Homo sapiens: one gene and its partner. The protein of the gene in region 1 interacts with the protein of each later gene in a biochemical or structural test. Each region holds a gene or a part of one and is shown on either strand. Other genes may lie near its edges.

Region 1 (8,161 bases):
GGCTGGCCACCATCCTTCATCCCCACCCTTTTCCCATATTCCCTGCATTTAAAGTATCAGCAAGTCCTGTCCATTTTGCTTCCTAAATAGAGCTCAAACCCTTTTACTTTTCTCCAACACTATTGCTGTCCTCTAGCCCAGACACCAATATATATCTCACTGAGCTTCCAACTGTGACAAGATCTTTCTTCTCTCTATTCCACTTCTCACCTGGAAGCTGAGATTGACTCCTTTTAAAACATAAACCAGATCATCCATTCATTTAAGCACTATTTACTAAGCACCTTTCTTCAAGGAGTTCTCCTCCCAGAGGCATAACAGACAACACACAAATATACACTATCACATCAGGCTTAAAATCCTTCAATGATTCGTTTGTTGCACTTTAGATAAAAATGTAAGCTCAGCATGGCCTCCAAGACTCCACTGCCTTCAAACTCATCTCGGGCCACTCCACACAATTTGCCCACTATGCGCTCCAACCACAATAGCCTCCATTCCTCCACCTCGCGGTCTTTGAATAAGCTGTTCTCTCTGCCTCTTGATCTTGGCGTTGCCGGATCTTTCTCATTCCCCAGATCTCAGTGTAAATATCACTACTTTGGGAGACCTTCCCTGACTACACTGTTAAGCACATCCACCCTTCATTCATTTCACTCATTTAAGAAATATGTGCTAAACCCTGTGGTAGGCTCTTGGGATGAAGCAATGTATGATCCCCTGGAGTCTGCAGTCTAAAGGGGAGGACCAACAATAGGAAAGTAAATAAAATAGATAAATGACTGTTACGAAGGGAGAATAAAAGGGAGGGAGTACAGAAGGCCTTTCCAAGAAGGTTATATTGAAACTGAAGGCAAGGAGTCAATTGGACAAAGAGCCTGTTATTCTCTATCACATACTGGCTATGCAATGCAATGTTCCACCCCTCAACACTTGCTTTTGATGAATCCAAGCATTTAATGTCTATCTCCTCTAATAGACTGAGCTTTCTCCCCATCACCTAGGATAGCGCCTACTCCTTAAGAGACACTCAATACACATTGATTGATTAATTAGTGGATGAATGAATGATTAATCAATCAATCCACCAATGAAAGCACTTTGGAAAGTGTAACAAATCATAGAGTTGTGAGTGATTGTTATTATTATAATTATTATTTTGTGGCAAAAGAACATCAACTTGGTTGGGTTTTGGAAGAGACTGGGTTTACTATAAAATGAGAATAAAAGTACCTAAGTTGGAGTATTATTGGACAACTAGAAGAGAATGTATATACATAATAGACACTCAAAAAAGGGAAGCAGTAGTCTTCGTGGCTATTATTATTAAAAGCTCCTCACAAAAGCTGACTCAACTCGAATTCCAAAACTCATTTTCAGGTGCAGTCATGAAACTTAAAGGTGAGAGAAATGAATACTTTTAAGATATCTACTATGCACCAGGCACAGTACAAAGCACTACTTCATTTGTGAGGTAGTGTAGTGGATACCGTGGGGAAATGCTCAACTCCCCCTCCAAGACCAAGACACTCATGACTTCCCCATGTCCAGCTGCCAGAGTGTTGGTTACCCCAGCTCCCAGGTGAGTCCCTAGTCAGGAACTGTCCTGCTGAAGGGACATCCTAGCTCCCTCCCTAGGACCAGCCTGCACCCACTGGCTGATCAACATTAAGCTTCAAAGGCCTCGTCTCTTTGTCTCATGGGAGGGATTGAGACCTCTCTTGCACTGCACCATAGATCAACATCTCCCTCTGCCCAGTTCTGCTTCCCTTATCTGCACAAAAATCTCAGAAGCGCCAAGTCTTTTTCCAGGGAACCCAAACCATGACAGGTGAGTACAATGATTTCCTTTTAAATCAGAAAAAGAAGGTTCATGAAGGTTGCTAATGTCCCCAAAGCCTATGGCTAAAGTGACTTTCTGGTCTGATTTCCCAGCGAGCCCTTGTTCTTTCTACTACACCAATCTACACACAGCCTTGCCTCCAATGGCTGAGACTGGATCTCTGTGAAACAGAAAGGGGAGCCCAGGCAGAGGGGAAGGGCACACAGAGGGCTTGAAGATGAGAAAAGAAGAGCAGAGGCACCCTTCAGAGGCCTGATGACAAGACTGAGGTCACAGGCTCCAGAAACAATATCAAAATGATGTGCAGGCTGCAGAAGCAAGCATTACACGGGCAGCATCTCTTTGCCTGAATCCATGTCCAGAAGCCAGGGAGCAGGGCTCCCGGGCAGAGGGGGCTCCCTTAAGCAGGGAAGAGTATTTGCAGCCAAGGACCAGAAAACAACTACAACTTACCAGCTTTCTGATGCTCCGGCCTCCATCCATTGTCCCCAGAGCTGCCAGAGGGACCTGATCACTGATCAGAATTCTTCCACGGCCCTCCTTCATTCCAGGATAAAATTCTAAATATTCTAAGGCTGCACTTTAAGGTCTGTGCAGGTTTTAGCTTCCTGCCATGTCGAGAGCTCATTTCCTACCTACAGCAAGACCCGGTCCTACTCCATTATCTGCTGTAGAATTATCTGATGTGCTAGGTCAGGACACCGGACCTTTTCAGTTTCTTTACCTTTACACAAGAAAACCCACCTGGAATTCCTGCTCCCTATCAACTCACAGTCCCAACACACTTTTCAGCCTGGCAAAACCTCCGACTTCCAGTCAATGCTCACCTCCTCTCTGAAACCTTCCTGGCTTCCTCACCGTCCTCTTCTCCATCTCGAGTCTTCCGCACTACCCTGCACTGCAATTGCTCCTCCTACTGTCCCTCTTAGCCCCAGAAGCTCCCCAAAGGCCATTCTTCATGCTGCTAGGGCTTGGCACAGTTCCTGGCACTCAGAAAAAGCCAAGTAAGTGCTGGATAGATACACGAGGTGCTGTATCCATAGCTATTCTCTGCTTCTAGCTTGGCCAGGAAACCACTCTGAAATTTCATCCTGCCCCCAGGATGACTGGAAATCGGAAATGGCATGACAAACCTGACCTCCCAAACCCAAGGCAACAGGTCATGAGGGGTCTGGGGACCTAAGGCAGGTCCTAGGAGCCGGCGCAGAGCAGAGGTCCGGCCGCTGCGGTTCCTGGTTTCCCGCAAGCTCTTCCCCGGGCCGGGCGCTGGGTGGAGGCAGTCTTAGGATCCACAGTCTTGCGCGCCCCCGGCTCCCGGGCCCGGCAGACGGCCCCCGCACGCCGATCTGTCTGTCCCAGGGACCGGCCCAGGGCCCCGGCAGCGGCAGCCTGGGGAGACACCGTGGTGCGCGGCTCCTTGCCTCCCTCCCTGCCCCTCCGTGCGCCCGCATCCCGCGGACACAGAGCCGGAGCTCCAGGGGACGCAGCCCGACGCGAGAACGCACCAGCAGCCCCCGCTCGAGGTGGGGTCTCCCGGCTGTCAGAAACCCCACAAAGTCTACTTTGCGGCGCCGCGCCGCTTACCGTGCGAGCCGCCAGGAACTCGGCGCCCGGTGGTGCCTCGGCGCGGCGCCCGCCAGTCGATCCGCTCCGGGTCCCGGGAGCTCAGCCTCTGCCCCTCAACGCGCGCGAGCGCCCCCGCCCGGCGGCCCGGCCTCCCCGCGCCGCGGCGCCCCATTGGCTCGGGCAACGAGGCCCCCGGACGGCCCCGCCCACCCGCGCCCACTCCCTCGCCCACGCCTCTCCCCAACGCCTTGCTGGGTTCACCTCTCCAGGCAGGGAAAGTTGCTTCTAGACTCTGAGCTCTCACCGGACTCAGGAGCCCAGTTAGCTAATAATTCTGGGTCCCAGGAGTGTCTAGACGCCCCTCGGGGAGTGCGAAGAATGCAGTGTCCTTGGAATCCACCTTTGGGAAAGTCAGCTGACCTCCCGGACCTCAGGTGGCACCTCAGAGAAACCAGGGCCCCTTGTCAGGAAATGTCCCAGGTTGTGGGCTAGGCCCTAGGGCCAGGATGCAACAGGGAACAAGACAAAGTCTATCGTCCTCGTGGACTTTGCATGGGGTGGAGGTGGGGGTAGGTTATATACAACAAACGAAAAAAACAAGAGAATGTCGGCTGGGTGCCTGTGGCTCACGCCTGTAATCCCAGCACTTTGGGAGGCCGAGGCAGGTGAATCACGAGGTCGGGAGTTCAAGACCAGCCTGGCCAAGATGATAAAACCCCGTCTCTACTAAAAATACAAAAATTAGCTGGGCATGGTGGCCCTCACCTGTAGTCCTAGCTACTCGGGAGGCTGAGGCAGAATTGCTTGGACCCGGGAGGTGGAAGTTACAGTAAGCCGAGTTAGAGCCACTGCACTCCAGCCTGGGCAACAGAGCTAGATGCCGTCTCCAAAAAAAAGAAAAGAAAAAGAAAGGGGTCTAGGACTGCTATACCTAGGGTGGTCTCCGGGCCGCTTGTGATATTGGATACTTGGAGGACAAAAACGATTCCAGGGCTGAAGCAAGAGCATTGCTGACAGAGGGGTCGGCCGATGCATGGTTCTGAAGCTGGAACTGGCCCCCAGGGTGGCTGAGTGAGGTGAGCAAGGGGAGAGTGGGTTACAGCCAGAGAGGTAGACTAGTGTGGAATCACCATCACCCAGAACCTTGTAGGCCACCGTGAGGGTCAGGGCTTTGTCATATCAATCTGGAGGGAACAATTCAGGCAAGAGATTATGGTGATGAAGACCAGGGTGGTGACAGCAAGATACGGAAAAGGTGGACCTCCTGCAATGTGTGTCAAAAGTAGCACAGGAAGGCTTGATGATGGATTAGGCTGGATTTAGGGGATGCTATGGTTTAAATATGTTCCCCAAAGTTCATATCTTGGAAACTTAATCCCCAATGCAACAGTGTTGAGAGGTGGGACCTTTAAGAGGTGATTCCATTAATGCCAGGAGTGGCCCTCTCCCCACCCCTCTGCTGCTCTCTTGTTCTGCCTTGTGCCATGGGGTGACTCAGCATGAAGGCCCTTACCAGATGCAGCCCCTCAATCTTGGACTTCCCAGCCTCCAGAGCCATGAGCTAAATAAATTGTTGTTCCTTATAAATTACCCAGTCTGTGATATTCTGTTATATTGGCACAAAATAGACTATGACAGGGGTTGACGTAAAGGGATGAAAGAAGAAAATCTCCTAGGTGTTTAGCTTGAGCCACTGTGGAGTAATGGTACTATTTCCAAGATCGGGAAGGTTCTTACCCAGCATCTTCCACTTACTGCATGAGCGTTAGTACATGATCTCAGTAACTAAGAGGGAGTGACTCTAACCTCAGTAACTAAGAGGGCATAAGACTAGCTGAAGGATCACAAACTTTAATACCGACGTGGCCGGGTAGTCATGTACTAAGTGAGGTTGGCAGGGTATAATAGAAAGGAGGGATGGGGCTTGTGACAGACTGAGGTATGCACACCTGCCTAAGGTGACAGTCACTGCTCAGCTCCAACTGATTTTTGCCATATGTGAATGGAGACCCACCCAGAGTTGCCAGATGTTCTGTTTTTTGTTTGTTTGTTTTTTATCGAGACTGAGTCCTGCTCTGTCACCCAGGCTAGAGTGCAGTGGTGCGATCTCAGCTCACCGCAACCTCCGCCTCCCTGGTTCAAGCAATTCTCCTGCCTCCCAAGCAGCTGGAATTACAGGCGCCCACCACCACGTCTGGCTAATTTGTGTATTTTTAGTAGAGACAGGGTTTCACCATGTTGGCCAGACTGGTCTCGAACTTCTAACCTCGTGATCTGCCCACCTTGGCCTCCCAAAGTGCTGGGATTATAGGCGTGAGCCACCACACCAGACCCTGATTTTTATTAAGAGGCCAGAAATTCAGATTATGTTAAATCTCTGGTTTTTTTAAATGCTGGTAATTAACTACAACTTTTTTTTTTTTTTTTTCTGAGACGGAGTCTCGCTCTGTCGCCCAGGCTGGATTGCAGTGGATTGTCGAGATTGCAGTGGTGCAATCTCGGCTCACTGCAAGCTCTGCCTTCCGGGTTCACGCCATTCTCCTTCCTCAGCCTCCCAGGTAGCTGGGACTACAGGCGCCCGCCACCACGTCCAGCTAATTTTTTGTATTTTTAGTACAGATGGGGTTTCACCGCGTTAGCCAAGAGGGTCTCGATCTCCTGACCTCATGATCCGCCCGCCTTGGCCTCCCAAAGTGCTGGGATTGCAGGCGTGAGCCACTGCACCCAGCCAATTAACTAAAACTTTTTAAAAGACTGTATTGGCCAAGACTGTTGGACAAGATCAAACCCATGTATGGGCTGGATTTATCCCCTTAGGGACTATTTCCACCTCTGGATTAGACAATACCTCCAACCTTTTAAAGAAACCCTCATAGTGTCTGTCCAGATTGGATGAGAACAATAATGGGAAATAAAAGGATCAAGGAAATCCCAAATGAAAAACCCAGCATAGTCTTTAATGGCATTTGGCCCGCCCCTACCTCCATCTACCTGACATATATCTTCTAAGCCTCAGTTTCCCTCAGGCTAGAGCACAGCTCCTCCAAAACTCCTCCCAACTGTAACCTTTGGAGCTGTAACATCATCATAATTTTTCTTAACTACTGGTTTTCAAATATGCACAGGAATGTTGCTTGGGGAAACATGGAAGGTGTGTATTCATGTCTGGGTCTGTAAATCTAAAAGGCCTCAGTGCTGTCAGTCTGAAGCAAGGAAGGAAAGAGGAAACAGAATGGCATAGAGGTTTAGATGAAAGCCAGATAAATTATTGCATGGAAAATTATTTTTTATTGCACTCTGAATAAGAAAAAATGGCAATTAGATGCAGGAGTGCTTAATGGTTTCTACTGAAAATTCAATGTATTGTAGCCACTTCTCAATATATATCACCAAGGGTTTTGCAGTAATGAGGTTCTCCCATCATGCATTGGAGGTCAGCTGCATTCTAGCATTATTTATTCTTATGTACTGATCTCATGTAATCAAAAAGGCCTGAAAACAGAAAATCACTTTCTGTAGAGTCAGTCCCTTTTACTCCTATCTCCTCCACCTTAGACATCATTTAAAGCTGGAGAAATGGCTTATGATTTTATAAATTGCTGGGTTTTGTGTAGGAGGGTCAACATGGATTAGGAACCAGGAGACCTGAAACTAAGTCCTTGAATAACTTCTCTGAACCTTCTTCATCAGTAGAATGAGAGCTGACAAAAGGTGGCTTCCTAGAAGACTTGTTTATTTCTATTTGTACTCCATGTTTCTTTTGGGGGATTTTTTTTTTTTTTTGTATGGTGACCTGGCAATTCCCAGGGACAGATTCTTGCACAATTTGCCACTCCCCAACTACTCCAAAAATCCTTGAAGAAAGGATGTTGTCTAAGTTGAGCCTATTGGATGCTCACTCCTGGGACTTTCCCTCACCCGAAAGTGACAAAGATGAAGAGAGAAATTGGACATACTAAGACTGCTTGCTTACAGTAATGGTGGTGGCAGCAGTTTCCTGGACTCTTGGTCATGAATCTTGCCGCCCAACCTCGTGAATTTCCTAGATTTCTGTTTCTCAAGTTTGGTCCTGCCATCCCTGTCCCCTACCCAATTTTATTTTGTGAGTCTCCCATCTCTGTTAAAACTGTCTTCTTGTGTTAGCTACTCCAATTATTTCTCTTGCTTTTAACCAAAAATCCTCATGGATCTAGGAAGAAAAGAAACATATTGCATCATATGATCCTTTCCCCAGGGCAACAATTCAGCGCAGGAATTTGCATACAGATGGATGCACACACGGTGATAGGTATACATGTTCCCTCACTACTCAGTAAGAAATCCAACCCCATGGGGTGGCGGTGGTAGTGTTTAAAAGGTTATTTGTTTTTGAAAAGAACCCAAGTCTGCTATTCTTAACAGATTTTTTTTTTAAGTGAGCAGGCTCTTATAATAACAAAACCACTCTAGAAATAGCCCTCTCGTATGTAAATTTTGTAGTTTTTCAAAGTACTTTCATATAAATTCCCTCATTTCATATGCACTCCTGCGAAGTAGGCAGAATAGATAGTATTCACAGTTTATAGATTATTATAATCATAGCTACCATTTACTCAACACATGTTATGTACCAGGCACTGCTAAATGCTTTATATACCCATATGCCGATCTTGTTAAGGAGGTATTATTATCCTCATTTTATAGCTGAAGAAATGGAGGGTGGCCCCAGGTCATATAGATAATACATAGTTGAGGTGAGAACTCGAACTCAGT
Region 2 (7,601 bases), on another chromosome or scaffold:
CTTTATCCTTAGATTTTTATCCAGGAACAACATAGGAGGATTTGGATGCTCTCCGAGAGAAGGAAACTATTCCCACCTGAAAGGCTGAGGTCATAGTTTTACTCACTGGAATTCTGGGGACTGCTGGTAGTTTAATAAAGACAGACAGAAGCCTTGCAGTTTGGTGGCAATAGAGTCTGACAGAACAAGTAAGAGCTGACCTCGTGCTGGAAACTGAAATCAGCCCCCCCCCGCGTAGAGAAACCAAGCTTGCTATACTTGGTCTATTTCAAATGTGTGAAAGATGCCAAGAAGACCCACCTATTAATCCAGCTACATCTTACGTAATTGTTTTTACCCAAGGATATAGACACTAGTAAAAAAGCCCTTGAATTAAACACTACAAAGAAAGTGGAAGAATGAACAGTGTGCGGAGAAACCTCTAACTGAAGGTCAGTTTAGGACCGAATCCGTCTGCAGGACAGGAGAGCTGAAAGCCAGCTGAAATGTACAATATCCCTGCTGTGGTCCTGGACAGCAAAAGCAAGATGCGAACAGAAAGAAGGTAGTCAGAGACAGATGGGCATGGCAGACAGAGGTACAGGAGTATGTTCAAGAACCTATCAGATGACCCCAACGTCCTATCTGATGATTTTGGAAGCCTAAGACTCTCCCTAAAGTCATCTCACAAATGTGGGACACAGATGCAGTATGGTGGCCTTTTGATCACCACACTGCTTGTATTGAGAGTCAAGCAGGGCAACTATATTCAACAGATTCCAAGTGAGTGAGAGGCTAAGGGTGCTCAGCCTGTGGACATGTGGAACCGAGAGAGGCTCATGAAGCAAATCTCTAATACCACACCCTTTCCTTCCCCTAGATTCATTGTCTTCTAGGAGAGACACAATTAAAACAGGGCCAGGGCAGGATTTCCCATGGAGACTGACAATTGATTCTATACCAGAAAACTACTCTTAAGGTTTCATCCTGACTGTAGTAGACCTGTGATAAGTTACATGTCTTGTTGCTTTGGAGATTGAATGCTTCCTTCCACCGCCACAACACTATTGTGTGGATTACACATTTGCAAATAGTTTCTCTCTAGTACTTAGCAGTGACTTCGAATTCAAATGCCTCCCTGATAAAATCATATCATGAATATGCATCAAGCCCACTCTTAGATAAATAATAATTACTTGGCAATTGATACGCTGCAAAATAAAAGTATTATGTTCTGTATTCAATGGGAAACTTGTGGAAATGAAATGAGTCTGAGAATGGACCCGTGCTGCAGTGCTTAGTCTTTGTGCTCCTGTCAACTGTCACACTAGGGAGGGGATTCTCAGACTGCTGTGCCATCATTAACTACAGGAGATGGATTCTTTTATTTGACAAAGAGAAATGATTTTTTTTCTCCAAATATAAGAAGCCATTAATGACATTCCCCCTCTCTGTTGCTGTTTTGGGAACACCTGCAAATCCTCCTAGCATCACGAGATATCCTTTTGTTTCATGGTAAGACTTTTTAAAAAGACTCCGATAACTTGAGAGCTGTGTCCCATTGACTCTACTCTCCTGAAACCTGGCTGCAAAAGTCATCCATGAGCCTTGCATCTCAGGCCCAGGTCAGGAGAGACCGTGTTACAAGAAGGTCTTCTTCAAACCCTGAGTCATAGCAGATCCTGTTATGGCCAGGACGCCGGATGCCTCCTCAAGGTGGAAAGGTGGAAAGGATATCTCTGGCTGGATGATTCAGTCCACTCAAGAGCCAGGACAAGAGTAAGCAGAAGACATAACAGAGAGCAATAAGTGCTCCCTGGAGAAGTCTGCTCCCCGCCATTCTAGAATGCAGAAAACCTAAGTGGTCAACAGTCTGGTCAAGCAGATTTAGAATGTTGATGCAGGCTGCCTTTCCAGATCCTTTACCAATTCTTCCAAGCCCCAACTGCCCCGTCTCCTAAGATCTTCATGCACTCATCAGGCCCTGACCCTGCCTCTCGCCTCAGGATTCAGCCTTGGGTATGAATGAATGTCTTCACCATTCCCTGAGTGCTGGTGGTAGAGAGGGAGCTCAGACTTCCCAAGAAAGATGTGGACTACAGCGCCCTCTATAGAAAGCAAACAAGAAGAATCCCTGCTGAAAGCAGCAAGGGAAATCAGCTCACCCTCCCCTATAATGTAGCAGCCCCCGAACAAGTTTTTTGGGGTACAAACACCACCTTGATTCTGAGATCTAAGCCAATTCTTTTCATTATGGCTCAAATAATACACCTAAATTCCTGTAAGTTAAATCCTACAATAATGAATTCCAATCAAATACTGCCTGGAATAAGTAGATCGTAATGAAGGCTGGGAAACCTGTTATAGACACGGAGACTGGGATGCTAGGGTAGTAATCTTTTTACAACAGTGTTTGGCACAAATTCATACTTTAAGCTGTTTTAAGAGTGGTATCATAAAGCCACAACTGTTCTGACTCCAAAGGCATCACTTTCCACCCCAAATATCAGGAAAGTAAGGCAGGAAAGGAAGGGTGGAATTGTGTGCATCTTTTCCCTTGGTCAGTTCAAGTCATTAACAACATTCAGCCAAGCCAGCCAAGCCCAGCTCAGAGCAGGGGATACATGGGAAACCAAAATGTGCCTCTCCATTTCAACTGCATCCCCCATCTATCCCCCTCCCGCTGCCCCCACTCCCCAACAAGCAATGATCCAATAGCATGAGCGATTCCTTATGACTCCCTAGATTTTAAACCTGCCCTGAGCCCCTCGCTAGGGAAGGTGCATCAAGCCCATGAGAGTGGAGCCTGCGAAGTAGGGAGGAGGCTGAGGAGAACCTGGGCCACAGCCACTTGTGTCTGCTGCTGCTGCTGCTGGAGGAGCTGCTGGAGGAGCTGCATCTGGTGGTGAGTGGACAGCGGTGTCTCTGTGCCCAGGCCTGGAGGCTTCGAGGAAGAAGAAGGGAGCAGCATCCTGGGTGAGGCTGTCAGCATGGGCTCCTGGGGGTGCGAAACCTGGAGGAGAAGGAGAAGACAGGACATGACATGTGGCAGGAGCCATCTTGAGGGGCCTCCCTCTCTTTGGCATGCACTCAGGAGGAGCAAATTGGCACACTTACAACCCATAAGCTGACAGCACTATATCTTCAATGGAAATGGGAGTAGAGGCCCAGAAAGGAAATGGTGTAGCTGCCTGGGCTGATACCACACAGTCAGAAAATCGTAGGGGGACTAGGGGGACACCTCGGTAACTGACCCCGATGGGAGACTGATGGCTGATACTGCTCCATCTCTTGCCCACCACTTCCAATGATACCCTGTCACTGAGTTCCTTGAGGTTCTAGACTTAGAAGAATCTATTTTAGGAAAACGTAGCTTCCATCCACCCTACCATGATAACAGGAAGGACCCAGCTTCAATCCTCTACTCTGCTGTGTCCTTAGGGCTCCCTCCTCCAGGGTCTGAGATGTTCCTTCTCCCTTGTTGGGAGAAGCGTGGAGCTGGGTCCTGGAGGAAGGGGCCATGTGAGGGGGCTACCTCCTGCCCTCCACTGCCTCTGGTGAGAACCATCGGCAAAGAAGTTTGGATCCTAAAATATATAATGATCTGGAGAGATCCTCTTAGATGAAAGAAGTTCCTGTGTCCTTCCCTCCTTTCCTTCTGTCTCCCTCTCCTGTGGACATTTTTACCAAGATGGCTTCTACGATTCATAGAATTCCATGGCAGGGAAAGACATTTTGTTTCTGGCAGTTCTGCTGTGGGGACTTCTTCAGACATACACAAGGAAGGCCCCCAGTGACACAGGGCTGTTTCCACTTGTAGAGGATAAACTGGTTCCAAAGGAAACGTCAGGCAGCTAGTTTAGAACTGAACTGCCCTCCAAACCTCCATGTGAGATAAGATATGAATGTTAAAGAGAGAGAGGTGCCCTGATATAAACCGCCTGGGAATCTAAGGGTAGAGCTATTGGTCAGTAATTTTGCTTCTGGGTTTAAAACATTTTTAATTAGCTTTGGCTTCAGGTTGGAATTTGATCTCAAGTTCTTAGTTTCTTAATTGGATCACATTAGGAACCCCCAGATGCCACAGTCATCTCACCTATATGATGTTAGGTTAGAGCTGATGAAGACTAAGGTGGTCTCTCAGTTTCTGACATCCAGTGGGCCAACTTCCAGACTCCAAAGTGCTATCCACAGGAATTACCAACGGTATACCACCGCTACTGCAGGCAGAGCGGGCCCAAACTGACTTTGCTCTACTAGCTAAGTCACAGGGGAGTCTGTGTGTGTGTGTGCCAGAGTGAGCCTTGCAAAATACTGTGCAAAGATGAGATGCTGTTAAGGGAAGAGGGTGCCAGGGAGTAGGAGACCAAATATTGGTGGGATTTGGGGAGGGCGATGTGTGTCAGGAATCAGCTCCACAGCATCCTGGCCTGCAGCAGCATCTAGTGTTCAGACCCTCTGGAAGTCAGACCTTCTGAAAGGCAATGAAGTGCGCTCTGGCACCGCCACTGTGCCATGGAGTGCCTCACTCGGAAGCTGAGCTGGCAGGGGCTAGGAAGTGACTGATGACCTGAGGGCACACGTGTGCAGATCACACAGATGGGCCATCTCTTGCCTACCTTGGAGCCTGTGTGAGAGCCTCCTTCCTTCCCTACAGCATCTAGATCAGTCACACCTCGGCTGAATTCCAGGACATCATTCCCTGGAAGTGGGACCTCCACCGCATCGATGTCAGTCTCCTCTGCAGTGGCCGTGGAGGCCCTCTCGGCTCCAGTGAGCTGGCGGCCTGCAGGAACAACAGGGGAGGGAGGGAAGAGAATGAAAACACCGAGAACAAAGTCCTCCTTTCCTAATACTTTAGCTTTCAGGCATGTTGAGCCTAGGGATGCCACTGGCTTTGTAACATTTTCACACATCTTTTCACTCAAGTACGTTAAAGTGCATTTCCAGCCCAGTAAGATGTTCTCATCTTAGTATCTTTTCAAAGTCCAGAAAAAAAGGCAATACTTCCTCAAGCCTGGATGTAAAAGTTTTGCCAGGTTCACAGGAATATATTGACAAGGTACACTGGAAGAAGGGGATGCTGATCATCTCCATGTCATCGCAGCTCAGGAACGGAAGCAGTCAAGGGAAAGGGCCCTGGCCCGGGGGTCCAGAAATGAGGAGGTTGGGCCTCCAATAAACTGCTGGACAAGAAGCAAATCCCCTCACTCTCTGGGCCATGTTTCTTTAACTACAGAATTAGAAGCTCAGTTAGATGGACAGGTAGGGTTCCATGACTGAGGAATAAGGCAGGGAGATGTGAGGCTGCATTTTAACACAGTATCAATCTCCCAGCCCTCAGAGCCTGATCCTCTCACCAACAGCAGAAGCCAGGAAGACGCCTGCAGGAAGTGGCACGGGGAGGAGGAGAGAGATGGGGTGGCTGCTTTTCCATGCTTCCTTATCTAATTTTTCTACTTCCCACATTTCTTCCTTTCCACTGAAGACAATGGCCATGTCTTTACTTAATATTTAACCACAGGCACAGCATACTGCTTAATACCAATGTATGAAAGCCCTGCTATTTCCTACTTATCTTCCTTCCTTGATCCTATTTCTGGGATTCTGTAAAAACATCTGACAACTCCTGGGCATTTCATAGGAAATATTTTCATTTTCTATATTTGCAATTAGGTTAATTACTGCCGTCTTTAAATAAGATTTCTCATGAGTTTTCAGAGACCACGCACCAATTATAAAATGGAACAGGTGGATGTAAAGCAGGAGACACAGAGCTGATGCCCCAGTGCTGAAGCTAGCCCAGGCAACCAGGCCTTGGCCATTTGAGTGCTTGCCTTGTAGAACAAATTGTTCTAAGAAGTTTTCCTATGCAAACCTACACAAGTCATCAAGGGAAACAAGCCTGGCATTTAGAAAGTAAACAGTGGGCTTGGTTTTCTTCCTGGCTACTCCAGGAGCTGAGGAGACAGTCCTGTGGAGGGCTGCAAAGGCGTTTAACAGAAAAGATGGTTCTGACTGCAGCTAGTGGGGGCAGGGAAGGGGAAGCTCTTCTGCCCCTTGGTCAGCCAGTAGGCGGGGAGCACAGGGAGCAGCCTGCTTTCTACCACAGCCTGCACCTGGAAGTGACCGTCTTGATGGCTGGGTGCTTAGCCTGAGAGATGGAGGGTCGGTAGGTGGGTGGTGCTGGGAACTAAGCGTTTGGTTCTCCATGCCTGTACAGGAAAAAGCAGGGTGAAATTTCTATCAGTGATCAGGAGAAGCTGGGCTACTGCAGTGTTCTGTGCACTTAGCACATGATATTGGATGTGCCTGGCCATCAGTCTTCCCTTACAGACTTGAGGCCAGGCTGTGTCTCATTCATGTTTCCTAAAAATGTTTCTCTGGCACAGAGAAAGTGTTCCATAAATACTGACAAAGTAAGTAATGTAGTGACAGGGTAGCAAAACAGGAGAACAGGCTGCAGGAGAAGGCTGCTTATCTACTTCCCATCCCTGGAGATCCTAATAACAAGAACTAAGAAGCCCCAGACACAGAGGGTTTGGACAGGGCCTCGCCAGAAGCCCAGGTGGAATCAGAAAATTTGTCAGGTTTGGCCGGGCGCGGGGGCAGGGGCAGAGAGGCACAGAGGCAGGAAGTCCACGGCATGTCAGGCAATGCAAGTGGTCCCGTAGGGAGGGACCTGACCAGGACGAGTCAGCATTTTATCTTGAGGGACTGAAAGCAAGTAATACCAAAACATTTTCATCCTTCAAAATTTCACTCTAGATATAGTATGGAGGATAGATCCAGCAGCAATGAGAGAAAGTGATACTCTAGGTGGAAAATATGAGGGCTTGAGTGAAGACAATGGCAATAACATGGAGAAGAGATGGATTCGAAGGATCGTCAGGGGGCAGAAAGCACAGGGTTTGCTTGTCTGTGGTGGGGGCGGGGGTGGGGATATGTGCAGGATGAGTCTTAAAATATCTGATTCAGGTGACTGAATGGAGAATGGCATCCTATAGGAAAAATCCAGGAGAAGCAGGATTGCAGGTAAGAAGATGAGTTCAGTTTTAAACCTGTTGACATTGTAAGAGTCTGTGTAACAGTCAAGTAGGGATACCTATTAGGCTGTTGGGTATGTTATGGACTGAATGTTGGTGTTCATATGTCGAAGCCTTAGCTCCCAATGTAATAGCACTTGGAGATGAGCTTTTGGGAGGTAATTAGATCATGAGAATGCAGTCCTCATGATGGGATTCATGCCCTTATAAGAAGCGATGTAGGAGATCCCTCTCTTTCCACCCTGTGAGGACACAGCAAAAAGGCAGCTGTTTGCGAACCAGAAGAGAGTTCTCACCAGGAACCAAATTGGCTGGCACCTTAATCTTGGACTTCTCAGCCTCCAAAACTGTCAGAAATAAATGTTGTTTAAGCCATCCAATCTACTGCATTTTATTATGGCAGGCTGTGTAGATTACTATAGTGCATGAATGGAAAGTTCAGGAAAAAGGCCTGGCCTAAAGATAAACTTTAGTTGAAATCATGGAATGTCAGAAAAAAAAAAAAATACCAGGGGCAAGTCCAGGAGAAATTCCAACACTTAAGGGGTAGGTAGAAGAGGAGCCTGCAGGCCAGGC

Evidence for each region.
Region 2: the proteins of SYN3 (region 1) and NOS1AP form a complex in vitro, tested with the Homo sapiens proteins (one study listed by BioGRID).

Annotation. Positions count from the first base shown.
Region 1 is NC_000022.11:33,054,865-33,063,025, forward strand, and holds the start of SYN3 (synapsin-3), read right to left. Parts: upstream 3,518-8,161; 5' UTR 3,428-3,517; exon of another isoform or gene 2,297-3,427; intron 1-2,296. UniProt on the Homo sapiens protein: May be involved in the regulation of neurotransmitter release and synaptogenesis.
Region 2 is NC_000001.11:162,352,351-162,359,951, reverse strand, and holds part of NOS1AP (carboxyl-terminal PDZ ligand of neuronal nitric oxide synthase protein), read right to left. Parts: intron 4,766-7,601; coding exon 4,599-4,765; intron 2,993-4,598; coding exon 2,816-2,992; intron 1-2,815. UniProt on the Homo sapiens protein: Adapter protein involved in neuronal nitric-oxide (NO) synthesis regulation via its association with nNOS/NOS1. The complex formed with NOS1 and synapsins is necessary for specific NO and synapsin functions at a presynaptic level.